Linked DNA regions of Homo sapiens: region 2 is linked to region 1. The links come from fine-mapping of genetic effects on gene expression. Tissue or cell type: monocytes. Region 1 holds a variant in brackets; the other region holds the start of a gene. All regions are shown on one strand. Distances are from middle to middle.

Region 1 (8,187 bases):
CAAATCTAACCTATTCAGAACTTTGAAGATAAGATTCGACTTCTTGAATCAAATTCAGTTGTATTTCCATAAAAAGCCAAAGAAGCAAAGACTTCTTTGTCACAATTCTTAGACTTTCCACAGGGAAAGCCATGGGGAGAAGACAAGGTATCTTAGATAGTTTCTCTCTAACGAAACTGTGCATCACCTGGACCTAGATTGGACTCTGTGTCCACATTTGTACCTATGTTATTTTGCTGCATTTATGTCTCTCATCACATGTGGTGGTTTGTAAAATGTGATGCTTTGGATGGGTTTTTTCTTCTTCATTTCATGTGGTTTTCAAAAGGCCTGGAAATCCGTCTTCTTGTCAGAACCACTTATACTGTCTTTTGAGATCTTTTTGGTGTCAGGATTCAGAGCAGCCATTCACTCCCATTCCTTCAGTCTTGATATTCACAACAAACTCATTACATGGCTGAAATCTAAAACATTTATGTATAGAGGACACTATGCCTCTAATTATTGCAAATGAGGCTCCTTATCTATTTCATGATATCTCCTCAGAGAGGAAGTCTGTGAGGAGCTGTGATTTTTTTTTTTTTTTTTGCCAGCTCCTTTAAAACCTTCATGAAAGCTCTCTTCACGCTGCCTACCCAATGGCAAATGCATTTAATGTTCCCTGTTGCCTCTGCCCTGCTGCATTTGCCACATGAAGGCTGCTCAGCCTCGTCTCTTGGATCACAGCATGCTCCTGTGACCTGGGGGCCACGGCTAAGGCTCTAGGCGCCCGCAATTGGAGGCCTGTCAGCCACGAAATGATAAACAGCAAAGGATGCTTTTATTAACACCTCTCCACACTGACCAATGTGGTTTTCTTTCTTGCTCCTAAGCTCAATGGACTAAGACTCAGCGAAGTTTTAATTCAATAGTATTCTCCTTGCCAAATTTCCCTCAGGATTCTAGTTAACACTAACCCTGAACGAGAAACACCGTAAGGGAAGCACATCTCTCATTGTTAGGCTCACCATTAAATGTAATGACTGATTTCTTTAATCCGTGGGTATGTAAGTCTGTGTTTCTTTCATTGTCAATCTATAATTAATCACCTTATATAAAATAAGAAGTGAGAGAGAAATAAAAAGTCATAGAAATGAACTCATAATTAAGAGTACATTATACAGACTTTATTATTTCATGGTATAAGCCCCAAAGCATCCACACTACAGTGAAATTTTTCTGTTTTTAAAAGTCTGCTTGCTGTTCATAAGAATCTTCCTATAAACAAAAGATACTTAGATTTATTTAGGTAGATTTTTGTGCGGGGGGGCAGGGGGTCAAAGAATTACCCTATGTCCTATAAGAGTCCATCCCAAAAGTTCCCTATAAATAATGACTGTTTATTCCTTGAATTTGATCAGTCCACTCAGCATGTAGAATACAGTGAGAAAAAATAGTGTGTATGGACCATAGTAGGCTTGGAGACAGTGAAGACTTAGAATGATGACTGGTAACATCTCTACCATTGTTAGCATCCCGTGCAATTGCTCTCTACCCAATTGATTTCTATGCATGAATCTCAAAAGAAGATGCAGCTCCCTTTATAAGATAGCGTCTAATGTCTTCCTTTCTTTCCCAGTGGGAGCCAACAATTTCCTCTACAACTTTGGAAACAATAAGATTAGGCAGCCTAGAGTCTAAATTAATAGGAAAATAACACTAAAGTCTTTTCAATAGCCACCAAGTTTCAAAGAACAAGAACAAAATTCACCTGTAAAAAATGGCCAGCACCATGGACCACACCTAATATGGAATTATTAGACTTCATTTCAAAAGTCCTCTTTGTATCTCCCACTTGTGATAAATTAACAAATGGTATTGCTTGAATTAGCTATGCTTTGAGTTTTTCCTGCAAGCACAGAACATTTGGTGTTCTTTTTCTTTCTCCCATGTAGAAAATTTGGAAGCCTCCACCTGTTACCTTGAAAATAAAATCGGGTCATCCTTTTTTTTTTTTATAAAAATGTAAAAGGAACCAGGGTTGTTATTTTAAGGCAAAATATTTATGTTGCAATAGTTACATCAATATCAAATATATTTAACATGAAACTCCTAGAGAAATAAAGCACCTGCAAGGAACTCCCCCCAAACATGCTTCAGAAGAGCAATCTTGATTCAGAAAGATAATCTTTAGTAATCATATGAACTGCCACTAAGGGACTCCTCAGGCAGAGCCTTCCCTAATGAGCATAGCCAGGGAGCTCTGAGTGCTGCCGTCTCCTTACCCCCAAGCCACTGGGAAATGCATCAGCCCCTTGCTCCCACTGCATAAAGCAGGAAATAATACATTTCAAGAAGCTACGTCTTCATATTCAGATTCACATTACAGGGAGGTTAAAAGAAGAAACCTTGTTTGTGTTAGTTGCAGATGTATCCCAAGCACCTGAACAATGCCTGCAACATATACGATGTTCAATGAGTGAATGATGGCACAGAGACTAGGTAGGCTGCTGCCTGCCAAATGGAGGACTTTCAGGGTCATAGTAGAGCAGCACAGTCAAGGGGGATTTTCCTGAACCCTGATCTACCATTTCTAACTTCCTGAATTGTTTTTGACCTTTCCTTCTCTCCACTGAAGAAAAAATGTTAATTTTCTTGGGTGTAGGTCTATTGCTTATTCATAGGACATGTGTATAATTACCATACTATACTGTAATTGATTACTTATTTCCTCCAGAGCCAACCCATCCATTAGGCGTAGTAGTAAACACACACACAACACGCACACACACACAACAATCTTGAGGCTGCAGAAAATGTTTTAATATAAAGTATTAAAATAATCAACTTTATACTAACACAGTTGTAAAATAACAGTTTTAATATTTTTTAATGGAGTAAGGGGCCCATGAAGGCAAAAGTGCCTGGGACCCATGAGAATCATACTGCAGACCTGATCTTCATTAGGCAGTGAACAAACAATATTGGAGACGAATCTGGTTTGAATGCAGAAAGAGGAAGCAAAGAGAAAAGAGCTGATAAAAAGAAGTCATTTTTTTAGGTGTGGGCTAGCAGTGGGAGAGAAGAATGCCTTGGAGAAGGCTGGAGAAGTAGGAGGCTGAAACCAGGGAGGTGTGTAGGGGTATCTGGGGAACTTCTGGAAGAGGTGGGGTGTTGAGTCCATATTTGGCAAGGGAAGATGTATTTTCTGGCAGGCTGATGAATAATGGAATTTGAGAGCTAGAAGTGCTCTAAAGAGCTGTTGTATTCCAACTCCTTATTTTATGGGTGAGAAGGCTGAGTCTTATTAAATTATTGGGAAGATAGAATCTGATTCTAATGCCTTTTCCACTGCTCTGCCAACTCTTCCATTTGCCTGAATTGTATTTACAAGATGGGGTGAAACGAACAGCAAACTTCATTCACGTGTTTATTACATGTGTGTAATACACATATGTGTGAGCAATTCCACACATACCATAATGTTAGAGAGTCATTTTCAGGAATCTTAATAGATCTAGTAGATTACTTTCCAGTCACAGAATGGGACATTTTTATTTCTTATCCCTCTCAACTCTACTGCAACTCTGACTTGGAATCATTAGCATGTGCCTGGCCACCTCCCAAGTAAGAAGCCTGGACCTAGTAGCATAACTAAATTGGTCAGATAACTAAAAGGACAGGTAGCCAAGTCTGGCTAAAGTGAAACCAGAACCCACCAGAATTAGTGGGGCTGATTCTACTCTGATTCCAGAAAAGTCCTAGTTCTAGAGGGACTGTATGAGACTTTCTCTCATTCCCAGATGAGAGCCAGCAAACTGCATCTAAACTTCTGACCCATTCTTGAGTCGTTTGTTGAATGACTCAAATCATTCAACAAACATACCAAAGAGCTATCTCCACAAAATGCAGGTAATGATAAGTGGATGCAAGGGTGAATTATGATTGGACCCTGTCCTCAAGGAGTTTATAGTCTAATTGAAGGTCTAATGAAGGGGAGAGTGAAGAGCCCACAGGATGGTGGAAGCCACATAATCAGTGTTCATGATTACATGGCTCCATTCTGCCTCTAGGACATCCTTTTATGAGTAAATGCTTGGGAGGTTGTAGAATGAAATAAATTCTCCACATATGAGCCAGAGCTCAGGAAATTAAAGAGGAATGGAATCAAGGAAGGGAAAGGTCAGGAGGAGTAGTGGGAGAGGATATTGCAATCTGGGTTTTCAAAAGACATTTCAATTCAGATGAACTCATGGAAGGAATTAAATTTTAATCTTTAAAGCTTCATTGTGCAATTTCCTAAATGAAGGAGCAGTCTGATTGGTATATTTAGCATCCTCACAGAATAAACCTGCATGGGGGTTACACAACCTATCATAGGAACGAGGAGCTTCCATTTTCCATGTCTCTATGAGGTAGGGATTTGACCCTTATTGTCTCTAGTTTGAAAATATTAAGTCACTGTTTAATAAACTAGCTCCTACTCCAGATTCTTGAAAGGCAGCCCTGTTTCTGTTAGTTATTAAGGATGCAAAGCTCTACAAATCCTTTCCTCATCAAATTCACTCTTGTAATATAAACAGATTAATTTTCAAAATAATCAATTTCAGTATGTTGTTTCCACAGCTTCATGACCAATAGAAAAAGACTAACCTCTTTCCCTGATATTAGACAGTCAACCCACCCTCACAATCATGTTCCACTGCTCCACACACAGGTATACTATGCAATCTACACAGAACCTCACAGCCTGCCATGCACACACTCATGTCTACACCCGCTCATACTACTCAGGAACACCCACCGTTTCTCTACGCCTACTTATTCATTTATTATTTGGACAAATATTTATGGTGTACCTACTCAGTTTCAAAAACTTTAATAGGTTCTGGGGATTCAAAGGTGAACAAGATAAACATAGTCCCTCCTTCAGGAGCTTTAAGCTCTAGTTTTGATAAGTGCTACACAGAAGTACATTTATGATGACACGTAAAGGTGGCATGTTACCTAATCCAGTGGGTCATGGAAGCCTTCTCTGAGGGAATTACTTTTAATCTGAGATATAAAAAATTAAGAGGATTGATCCAAGCATTAGAGCATTCTATGAAGAAAGAACCACA[G/A]GTGTAGAGCCCTAAGGCACGTCCAGATCCTACCCACCCTGCAAGACTCAGCTCAGTTTTCAACTTCTCATCAAGTTTTTCCCAACCTCTGGAGTCTATGTTGAAGAACTGCTTACTCTTCTGAACTCACTGACACTCTGACTCTGTACCATTTTCTTAAGCTCTTAGTCACCATTGTTCTTATCACCATCCCACCTTTTATCTTTATCTTGCCTAGACTGTATCAGGACAGAACCATGCTCTGTGTCTTGCAATCTTCATGAACATCTAACTCCTAGTAAAAGTGTCTTACAATCTTCATGAACATCTAGCTCCTAGTAAAAGCTCAATAAATATAAATTAAATGCATGTATGCATGACTGAATGTATGAATGAATAAATGGTCTTGGTCAATTCAAGTTCCATGCATGGCCATTCAGTAAGTCTCAACAGAGGCATCACAGCAGTACAGAAGATATTGTATTCTTGATATTTTTAAAAGATTATTGGCCGTGCATCTCATTAAATAAACCATAACCCCCAAATCACCCCCCTGCCCCACCCCCCCAAAAAAACATGAGGATGGATGAGTGGTCAGAAAAAGCTGTCTCTATTCATGGTGCTGTGAGAAGATCCTTTTCTACCTAATAGTTGTTAGGTTATATAAATTGGTCTCAAGAAAATCTCTAACTAGAATGTGCTGGATTCTGTTGGATATGATATGTTCTTAGTGAAAGAGAAACCACCTTAACTATCTCCAGGCAGAAGAATCCTTCAATAGAAGCCTGCTGAAGGATGTGTGGATAGGCCTGTGGACTCTCATGATAGCTAACCTCTTCCACCAACCAAAATAGAGAATTGACACCACCCGCCAGTTTGCAGTAAATTCTCATCCTGCTCCTGGGCCTGCAAACATTTTCACTGCTATGGCTTCCTACCTCCTCCACCTTTGTTCCTCAACCTCCTTGGAACCAACCTGCCAACTTCAGGCCAGGTGGTATCATCTTTCCCTCAAGAAAATTTTAAAATGGAACACACTCAATTTCTGTTTCCTACATCAAAAACCACCTCAATGAGTTTTTAGTTGATACTTATATTTGAAAGCTGGATGTGGTTGGGAGAAAATGTAAACCACAGAGAGGCAGCTGACTCAGAGAGGGCACAGGAGAAACTAAATTATTAACACCTTAGTTCCTGTTCTCTGAATTTTCCCATCCTCTGGATTTTAGATGAAGTGCCAGAATGGGAAGCATTTTAGTGATAGGTTCTTTGCTGTGAGTGCCAAACCAGAAGATATCCAAGCAGGCCTGGAATGAAGAGAGGCCCAAGGATAAACAGGAGCTCAGTTCAGTTCAATGTGTATTTATGAGCTCCTGCTAAGTTGCATACTCTGCACTGGGCACTAGAAATACAAAAATAAATAAAATATTGTCCCTGATTTAAAGGAGCTTGTGATCCAGTAGGGGATTCAGACGTGTCAACATGTGATTATTGTGCAATGTGGTAAGTGCAGTGAGAAACAGGAAATATGAAAGAGGAAAACATCACCCATCTCAGGAAGGATAGAAAAGTAGGTTGGTCTAGAGGGTTGAAAATGATTCTGAAATGATCGTACTAACATCATAACGATAGGTCACACTGCCACATAGCAACATAAAAAGTCTACATAAAAAGAGATCATGTGTTTTGGGGAAATAATTACTTAATTTCTCACCCAGTGGATCAAATGAGGAATTCCATGGCCCAAATGAAGCCAGAGTAATATGAAATGTAATTATTTTAATCGCTCAAAATTGGCAATGCACACAGCTCTCTGCTTAGACCCTGAAATTTGACTAAAGCCTTTATGAATTGCTTATGGAAAGGTTTACCAACCTCAGCACTAATGACATTTTTGGACTAGATAAGTTTTGTTGTGTGAATGTCCTGTGTATTGTAGGATGTTTAGTCTTTACCCATTAATGCCAGTGGCATCCACCATCTCCCAATTGGGACCAACTAAAATGTCTCAAATTGCTAAATGTCTCTTGGGGGGTGAAATCAATGCTAGTTGAGAACCACAAGTGAGGAAGTTTGTAGAAATGAACCCAATCATGTCTATTTAGTTCAAGATAATCAGTTCCTATCTAAGGCTGTGTTTAATAACCCAAACCCAGGAACTTGCCATCATCATTGTAGTTAAGCCTTTTCTTAGACAATTTCTACTTGAGACAGTGATAGCTGTGGCAGAAATTTCTAATTTCCTCCATTATACATTCTACTTCTCTCAGTCAACCTGGAAAAAGAACTCTCGATTTTTAGCTGGCCATCCGGAATAGACATTTCCTGGTCTTGCTGATGAGCTATAAGCAGAATTGGTGTGCACAGTTTCTAGGAATTTCCTTAAAGGGAAGGAATGTGTTCTTCTTCTTCAATTTCTTCCTTTTTCCACTTGATGTAGATGTAATTGCTGGAGCTCCAGCAGCCATACTTGATTATGAGGTGACATTGGGAACTGAAGCCACGAATTTCAGTTCAACAGATAGAAAAGGCTGACACTGGGCAGGGCCTTACCAACCCTGAAATCCTGAATTGCTACCTCCAGACTATCACGTAAGATATTATTTTTTGTACTGTTATTGTCTCTGTTACTTTTAGCTGCACCCTGCACCTGACATTAATCAATACAATTGCCTAAAGTGGACATTTATTATATTTCCAAAAGTCTCTGGACCACAATCTTCAACACATTAGGAAGCTTGGTCAGCTGTTCTACTAGAACCTTTACAGAAAACCCCATCCTCTTCTCTTCTCTTTTCTTCTCTTACAGTACACAGCACAGGATATTGGTTATTTCAACAATAACCCTCCTACCACCTCTCACTCTGCTACTCTGGCCAGTCAGTTACACTAGATAGACTGTTACCACCGCTTACTAAAAGTTGACATCTCCTTGAACCCATCAGACACAAAAATGAAATGAGAATACCTATTACTTGCAGAGTTGCAAGAAAAAGTATACTCTCCACTATTTCTGGTAGAAATGTGACATGTTGCTGTCTTTTTAAGAGCAATTTAATAATAGCAACAGAATTGAAAAATATACCATTCCTCCCAACTATCAACTTCC
Region 2 (8,187 bases), 66 kb before region 1:
AGTTCTTCCTAGGTGTAATTACTCTGGAAATAATAACTAAAAATTTATAAAAATCTGACAGACATATGGGAATATGGATCTACAAAGGTTCTTGCATTTATAATGAGGCTAGTACAATTTCCTAGAATTAGCAGTCTCCATCAGTATATTAAAACTAGATGCAGGAGGATGTAGGCTTTCACTCTGGCCTTGATATGAACTGGCTGGGGAATCTTGATGAAACCAGTTACCTTGTCTGAGTCTGTTTCCTCATCTATAAATTGAAAGAATAGAACCAGATAAACTCTGTGGTCCTTGTAACCTTTCCTGTACTATGAAATCTGCTATGTTATAGAAATAAAATCAAAACTAAACCACCATCGAAACCCAAATTCACACCTTCAAAGTCAAGCATCTAATAATTAACAGCATACCGAAGTTTACACACACGTTAAAAACAAGTAAATCTGGCATATGCCACAGCAAAATACAGGCCTCCATTATGAGGAGTACTGAGAAGCACATTCGCATCCTTCCTTTTCTGGTGCACCACAGGCTCTCCCTCCAGTGGAGACTTGTCGTTTCATCTACTTTCATTACATGTATTTCAATTGCAAAGAGGCTCTGATCAAGCAAAGCCCATCCTTACAAAATTGGAATCCACATGCAAACCAAATAGTTCTTTTTCCAGCTCACACCATGTCATGTGATTACATCAACACATAGCAAAAAACTGGGTATTATATTTTCCAAATTGTCAGATGATCCCAAACAAAAAAATCCAAACCCCTAAAATCAATGGCAGTCCCTTAAATATCACTGTGACAAGAACACTTAACAGTAATATACAGAATCATCCATCCTACTATACCATCCACAGTCCAACACAGGTTAGTTAACCTCTGTGCAATGAATTCCCAGCCCCTGGGACCAGATGTGTCAGGATAGAGAGACAGACAGAGGGAGGGGGAAGATAGTAACAGCAACAAAACATTTTCCTACGAAACTTGCACACATCTCTCCAAGTCTAACAGGTGCAACTACAGTCTAGACATCCCCTCACAGTTCTCTGACAAACAAGTTTCCCCATAACATATGTCCCCAGAGCTACTCCCCTGTAGACCGGAGATGGCCTTTTCTTCAAGAACTCAACTTTCACTTAGCAAATAAAACCAATCCCTAGCAAGCCTCCCTCACACAGAACCATCTTAGGCTGTTCCTGTGGAAAATCCAATTGGGAAAAAAAGACCTCCAAACCATCACCTCCTCCAAGTGCAGACCTCCTCCAGGCTGGCCATCACCATCCAAGGGTGATCCCTGGGAGCTGAGAAAAGGTACATGCTTTAGTCGAATCCAGCTTGCCAGTCTCCGCAGCCACCAGCAACCAGTCCCACGCTGGCCTCTCCCCTCCCAGAGACCACAGCACCTGTTAGGTGCTTTTTCTTTCCCACCTCCAAAGCAACGCTTGCCCTTTCCTTTTGAATAATGTCCAACTGCAGAATCCTACAGGGGTGGCTTGTTTTGACTGCTGCGGCGGCCCTTATTTTTGTTAATGTTGATTACAATTTCTGCTGTGCTCAAACCTGTAGCACTCATAAAACATGCTTACACACGCGGGGGACAATTGGCGATGCTCCCTGCTGGCTGGAGCCAGGCCTGGGAGGCTCTTTGGGGGATCGATTTTCCGGGCAGGCCGGTCTGGCTGTCCCCTAACACGTATCTGTTTCTATAAATACCCACTACCCACGGGGAGGTGGGGGAAGGACAGAGATGTTTACCGGGTCAGGGAAGGGAACTCTGGGATGCAAGGACGAAAAATGAGGAAAGAAGGAAAGCAGCAAGGAGGAAGTTCCTAGGAAGAGGAGGTCATGGGTGGGCGAGCTCTGGAGGGGAAGTAAGGGGCCCACGCCACGAATCTTCCTTTGTGGCTGCAGCTTTGGGCTCGCCCAACTTAACCAGGGCGGCGTCGACGAGAGACCATCGGCCCGAGGCGTGGGGCTGCTTGTATCTCGACCCCTCTTCTCCCGGCGTCAGACCCCTCCAAGTCCGGGTGCTTCGGCCTGGGGCCCCTCCCGCCCCCACCGCCCGGGCCGCCCGCGGGCTGGGTCTCACCGTGTGGGCTGCGGCGGCAGCGTTGCTGGCCCGGAGAGGCGGCAGGGCGATGGGGGAGGGCGGGCCAGTCCCCACTCCGCTCCGGGTGGCCCCTGCACCGAGCCCCGGGGAAGCCTGAAGCTGACGAACGGCGCTGTCCCCACCTCGGCCTGGAAGCCACGTGCGGGAGGAGACAAAAGAGGGTCAGGGGGGAGAAAGTCACCCAGACCCCCCCTCCAACCCCGCTGGGCAGCGACAACCCTCTTCCAAAGAAAGACGGAGGAAGAGACCGGGGCAGTAAAAACGGGCGTTCGGGTCACGGCTCCCCAGCGCACACCCACGGGCGGGGCGCGGGCAGCTGCAAAGTTAAGTGGGGCCCTGGCGCGCGAGTTCGCGACCCGGCGGGGGAGCCGGGCCGCGCCGGGGCTAGGCGGCCCACGTTGCAGACGGCCAGCAGCCGGGAGGTGGGTTTGGACAGCTGAGCAGGGAGCCACGGCCACGCCAAGCCCCGGGCAGCGCAGGGCGGGGCGGCAGGCCTGGACGGTCCCCGCCCGGGCCCCCGGCAGGCAGAAGCCTCTTCGGGCCGAGGGCTCCCCGCGGAGGGGCCTTCGGGGCCGCGCACAACCCTGCATGGAGCCCGGGGCGCGTCGTCCGCCCGGGGGCTCCCCCGCGCCGCGCCGCCGACTTTGTTCGAGGTCCCGCAGGCAGCGGCCGCCCGCGCCACAGGGGCTGCCCAGGGCCGGCGGGGGTCCGGGGATGCGGCGCGGCGGCACGGCCTCCTTACCGGTCGGGTAGGCGGCGGGAGCGGCGGCCGAAGGTTTCCTGGTTAACATGGCCGCTGGAGAGGAAAATGCATTTCAGGGCTGCCGTCGCCGCCGCCGGTCCTGCTGCTACTTCTGGCGGCCGCCGCCGCCGCCTCCCGGCCGCCCCTCGCGCGGGTCCCCGGCGCCTCGTCGCCGCCTCGCGTCTGCTACAGCCAGACACACACAGTCCACTGCATCCCCTCGGCCGGGGCCCGCCGCCGCGAGCCCCCCGCTCTCCTCCTCGCCGCCGTCCTCCTCTTCCTCGGGCGGCTGCAGCACCCTCCGGCCCGTGCACATGCCTCGCCCTCCCCTGCGCGCCGCGGGCCTCCCCGTCTCCCTCACATAGGGGCGCGGGGAGCTGGAAGCGCTGCGAGGACCGAAGACCGCCTGGCTCGGGAGCCTCTCCCGGGCCCGCGCGCGCGCGCCCCCGCGCACTCACACACAGGCGCCGGCGCGCGGCCCCGCCCCCGCCGCCCTCCGCCGCCCTCCTCCGCCGCCGCAGGCCCCGCCCCCGGCTCCCCCGGCCGCGGCCACGCACACCCCACCCCCACCCAACCTCCCGCCCGGCTCCTCTCAGTCCCCCGGTTTGCGCGCAGCCGCCCCTCCGCTCCCCGGAAAACTCGGCGGCCTCCGCTCGCCCTCCTCCGCCCCCTCCGGCCATCTGCACTGCTTCCCTCGGCTCCACTCCGGCGACCTTTTCCCCTCCCCGGCCCCGCGGCGCCCCTTCTCTGCCCTACAGCTCAACCTACCGCTGCTGCCCTCCGGCCGAAAGCGCCGCAGAGACCCCTCCCCTGCCATGCGCACCCCTAAACATAAATGCATTTTCAGCTCTTCGAACTGAATGGCTGCTCACAGACAGTACTGCTTCCCCGTCCCCCCATTCTTGGTCCCAGCGACTTAGCCACTCCCCTCTCCCCAATTCATCATGTAGATAACTTAGTTGTGCGAGGGTCACCTCGGAGAGGCAAGTCCCGGGAGGGGCGGCCGCTGAGCTCGTTGACCCTGAGCAGGGGCGAAAGAGGGGGCTGCCCTCCCACCTCCACCACACACCCTCCCCGGTTTACTGACACCAAGTGACCGCTCGCCAGTCGCTAGGACAAGGGGAGGCAGAGAGGCGCGTGTGGACGGCAGCTGGGGAAGCAGTTGGCTGTGGGTTGCTAGGCAAAAATAAACATCAGAGACATCTCCTATTTCCTTACAACTCCGAGCCTTTCCCCTGCGCGGCCACTGGGAGAGACACACCTTCCTTTCAGCTCTGCGGTGAGGGAGCGACACCTCGAATTCCTCTCACCCCACCCGACACATCTCTTTCCCCCTTCCCTTCCAAGACACGTGGAGAATTTCCCTGCCTTTTTTATTCGCCATATACAACCTCTCTTTTCCTTGAAGACCAAAAAAAAATTGCTTTCCCGTCTCACATCCGCGCCTCGTCGTGCGTGGCACACAGTGCGCCTCTGTTCAAAGGTCACAGGTTTTGCCACTTCAACTGTGAGAGGAGGTGGGGTGGGAAAGCCCGACAAATCCCGGATGACGGGGCAGAGTTATGCCATGCACTTCCTTCTCGAGAGGTGCCTAGTTTCTGAAGTTCTCTTGGGGCCAGGGGTCCATTATGCTCTGCCCCGCCCGAGTATCTCTGGCTCCTGGCTGGACCTACTGTGCAGGCCCGAACTAGTGCAGACTCCAGTCGGAAGGGAGCCACCTCCTGCGGAGTTTCATCCACTCTACTGTTTGCAAATTGTCATAGCAACCTCCTACAGAGCGCATCCGCAGCTTTATACAAACGCCAAAAACTGTTTCAAGGTACAGTGTGACCCTCTCAGAGTCTCTGGGACTCCTAAAGAGGCCTCCAAGTTAGGGTCACTGGGAGAGGGAACCTGTGACAAAAAGAATTTTCCCTAGTATTACGTCCCTCCAAACAAAACAAAACAAAACAAAACAAAACAAAACACCCTTTCGGGGCCTTCTCCTAATAAAGTAGACCCACAGTAAAATAATCCAATAATATGCCTTTAGAGGAATCATGACCTGAACTGACCCTAGCAAGAAATATCCCCCTATGCTTGTCACTGGCGACCATCACATTTAAATCCACATGCGGAAGCATATTTAGTGTTTAGAATCGACTAAAAGAAAAGGGCTACTAAGTAGCAGAGATGACACTAGAACCGGTTTTCTGACTCCCAGTCTGATTTCACTATGACTTCCATCACACTACTTTCCTTACACTTTCAAGAAAGCTCACACCTCTTTTTTCTCCTTTCAAAACAATTATTTTCATACCATTTTCCTTTTTAAAATGAGTACTCCATACAACTGATGTTCAAATAAAAAAATGAAACAAAAAAATCAATTTTAATATAATATGACACCCCTTTTTGCTTAAGTTATTCGTACAATACTTCAGTAGAAGCTAAATATGCCACTGTTTTCTCATGAATAAAATAAATGCTAGTTACTGGAAGCCATAGTTTACGATTTCCAAATTAGTAATATTAATTTACTCATTTAACATGAGGAAAAGGAGCACTGATTCTTTTTTTTTTTTTTTTTTGACAAAGGATCACAATCATTAACTTTAAGAAAGAAAAAGACAATAGGGAACTTTTTGTAGTATATTGTTTTATATCATGACAAATATAATTTCAATTTTGTATATTTTTTGTGGCTTAACATAAGGAAATATTGCAGTTGACCTACCCCATAGCTATTTTGATTATAAATGGTACATCTTTGAAAATTATATTAATTTTTACTGACCTCTAAGTGACTATTAACCATTGCTTAGATTTTCCTCATTCTGTTAAATATTCTATTAAATATTGACATCTCCCTGAGTGAATGTTAAATAGAAAAGCTGTACAAACACACTCCTGGGGCTTTGGGGAGAGTGAAGTGGGTAAATTTGGGGAGTTATTTCCCTCAAATTTTATTATCATAATGCATCATTATCAATTATCTCATATAATTACACATATTTTGATCTCTTTATAAAACACTTTCACAAATATTACCATGTTTAATCTTCATAACTCCACCAGAGCAGATTTCATTTTAAATAGGAACCTCCTTAAAAGCTTCATTCAGTTAGCAAGAGACTGCTCTTTGGTTTTCACCCATTGTAAAAACTCTGTGTGTTCTATATGTTTAAAATCCAGATTCAGATAACAAGGAGGTAGGCAGGATCTAGCAGGAGTAGAGAGAAACAGGAGAACTCAGAATAGAGCCTTGAGGAAGAAAGTTGATTTTTCACTGGGCAAAGTACTGATCACAAGGAAAATTGGAAATGAACATAAAAATTGCTGGTTTCAAAACACATTTACTCATTTAATCCCCTTATCCCAGAAACATTTACAAAGAATTTAGTATGTGCTAGGCCTAGGAGACATGATGAATCATCAAATGCAGTAGACTACACTTCAGTCTGGCAATCTATTAGGAACTCATTCTTGTTTTGTTTTGTTTTTGTTTTTTTGAGACAGAATTTCACTGTGTTGCCCAGGCTGGAGTGCAGTGGCACAATCTCAGCTCACTGCAACCTCTGCCTCATGGTTCAAGTGGTTCTCCTGCCTTAGCCTCCCGAGTAGCTGGGACTACAGGTGCCCACCAACACGCCTAGCTAATTTTTGTATTTTTTGTAGAGACGGGGTTTCACCACGTTGGCCAGGCTGGTCTCCAACTCCTGACCTCAAGTGATCCACCTGCCTCGGCCTCCCAAAGTGCTAGGATTACAGGCGTGAGTCACCACACCTGTCCAGGAACTCATTCTTTTATTCAATTAAGCAATAAGCTATAAGAACCTAACATATTTTTGGCACCGTTGGTGGAATGTTATGGTCTGAATGTTTGTGTACGCCCCAAATTTATATTTTGAAATCCTAACCCACAATGTGATGGTATTAGGAGGTGGTTAGATCAAGTGACTGCAGAGAGTTAGTAGCCTTTTCCACCATGTGGGGACACAGAGAGCAGGCACCATTTATGAACAAGGAAACAGGCCCTCACCAGACACTAAATCTGCCAGCACCACGCTCTTGAACTTTCCAGCCTCCAGAACTGTGAGAAACAAATTTCTGTTTGTTACAGTTACCCAGGTTATAGTATTTTGTTATAGTAGCCCTAACAAACTAAGACATGGGGCTACACAGTTAAATAATCCCTGGCTCTGGTCACTGCTACTAGGAAGTTCACAGTTCCGTACGGGAGACCAGACATTTAATGAAGTGAAAAGAGTGGTAAAGAAGGCATATAGGAGTCACAGAGATAGCACACAGGAGAGAGGGACGAGCTCCACTTAAGTGGTGTCTGGCAGGGGCTGTGCTTCAGTGGAGGTTTTAAAGACGCGTGGGAATTTGCAAGTTAGGCGAGACAGGTTAGGACATTCCAAGTGGAAGAAATAGGATGTTCAGAAGCGTCAAGTTGTAAGAAAGCATGATGTGTCCCAGGGGAAGGGGAAGCAATTCAGAATAGAGGAAACTTGGGGTGCCAGGCAGAGGGGTGGTACTGCTATCTTCCTAGGGTTAGGTTTATGGATAGATCAAGTCAGGTTAAGAATTATCCTAAACTTGGCCAGGCATGATGGCTCATGCCTATAATCCCAGTGCTTTGAGAAGCTGAGGAGGGAGGACCAGGAGTTTGAGACTAGCCTGGACAACATAGCAAGACCCTGTCTCCACAAAAAAAGTAAAAATAAAGAAATATTCTAAACTTTATCTGCTATGGATATGTGAAAACAAGGTGCAGGGGCTTTTGGAGCAGCTAGATAAATTATTAAGGAACTGACTCATTTTGGTGAAGGTGGATCTAACTCCCTTTAAGAGAACACCAGGCCAGGTGCAGTGGCTCATGCCTGTAATCCCAGCACTTTGGGAGGCCGAGGCGGGTGGATCACTTGAGGTCAAGAGTTTGAGACCAGCCTGGCCAACATAGTGAAACCCTGTTGCTACTAAAAATTCAAAAAAATTAGCCAGGCATGGTGGCGGGCACCTGTAATCCCAGCTACTGGGAGGCTGAGGCAGGAGTATTGCTTGAACCCAGGAGGTGGAGGCTGCAGTGAGCCAAGATTGTGCCACTGCACTCCAGCCTGGGAGACAGAGTAAGACTCCATCTAAAAAAAAAAAAAAAAAAAAAAAAGAGAACACCACTAACTGGCGGTACCTTCTATGTCTCCATCACCAAGGTCCAGAACTACCTAGAAAAGAATATGAAGACCTTATGGCCTAAAGTCTACTAATGTAAACTTTTCAGAAGTAGGAGGCATGGCCGTCATAACCAAATGGCTACAAGGTATCTGAATTTGCCTCTGGAGTGTGGCTCT

What was found. PIP is the estimated chance that this variant, and not a neighbour inherited with it, causes the effect.
Region 2: DYRK2 starts here. The variant in region 1 is fine-mapped to the expression of DYRK2 in monocytes (TOPMed, PIP above 0.99).

What each region holds. Positions count from the first base shown.
Region 1 is chr12:67,577,534-67,585,720 of GRCh38, reverse strand. The region is part of intron 2 of LINC02442 (long intergenic non-protein coding RNA 2442); the gene reads left to right. Among named protein-coding and RNA genes, the nearest start is that of LINC02442, 8.4 kb to the left of the region's middle. The variant G/A (reference allele first, on the strand shown) is at 5,100.
Region 2 is chr12:67,643,850-67,652,036 of GRCh38, reverse strand. It overlaps DYRK2 (dual specificity tyrosine phosphorylation regulated kinase 2), which reads right to left and starts at 3,292. Exons shown (of 3, transcript NM_006482.3): 1 at 2,855-3,292; 2 at 2,092-2,240. The coding sequence starts at 2,903. RefSeq lists an enhancer at 770-819 and silencers at 1,900-2,289, 2,450-3,109, 3,120-3,419, 3,520-3,629.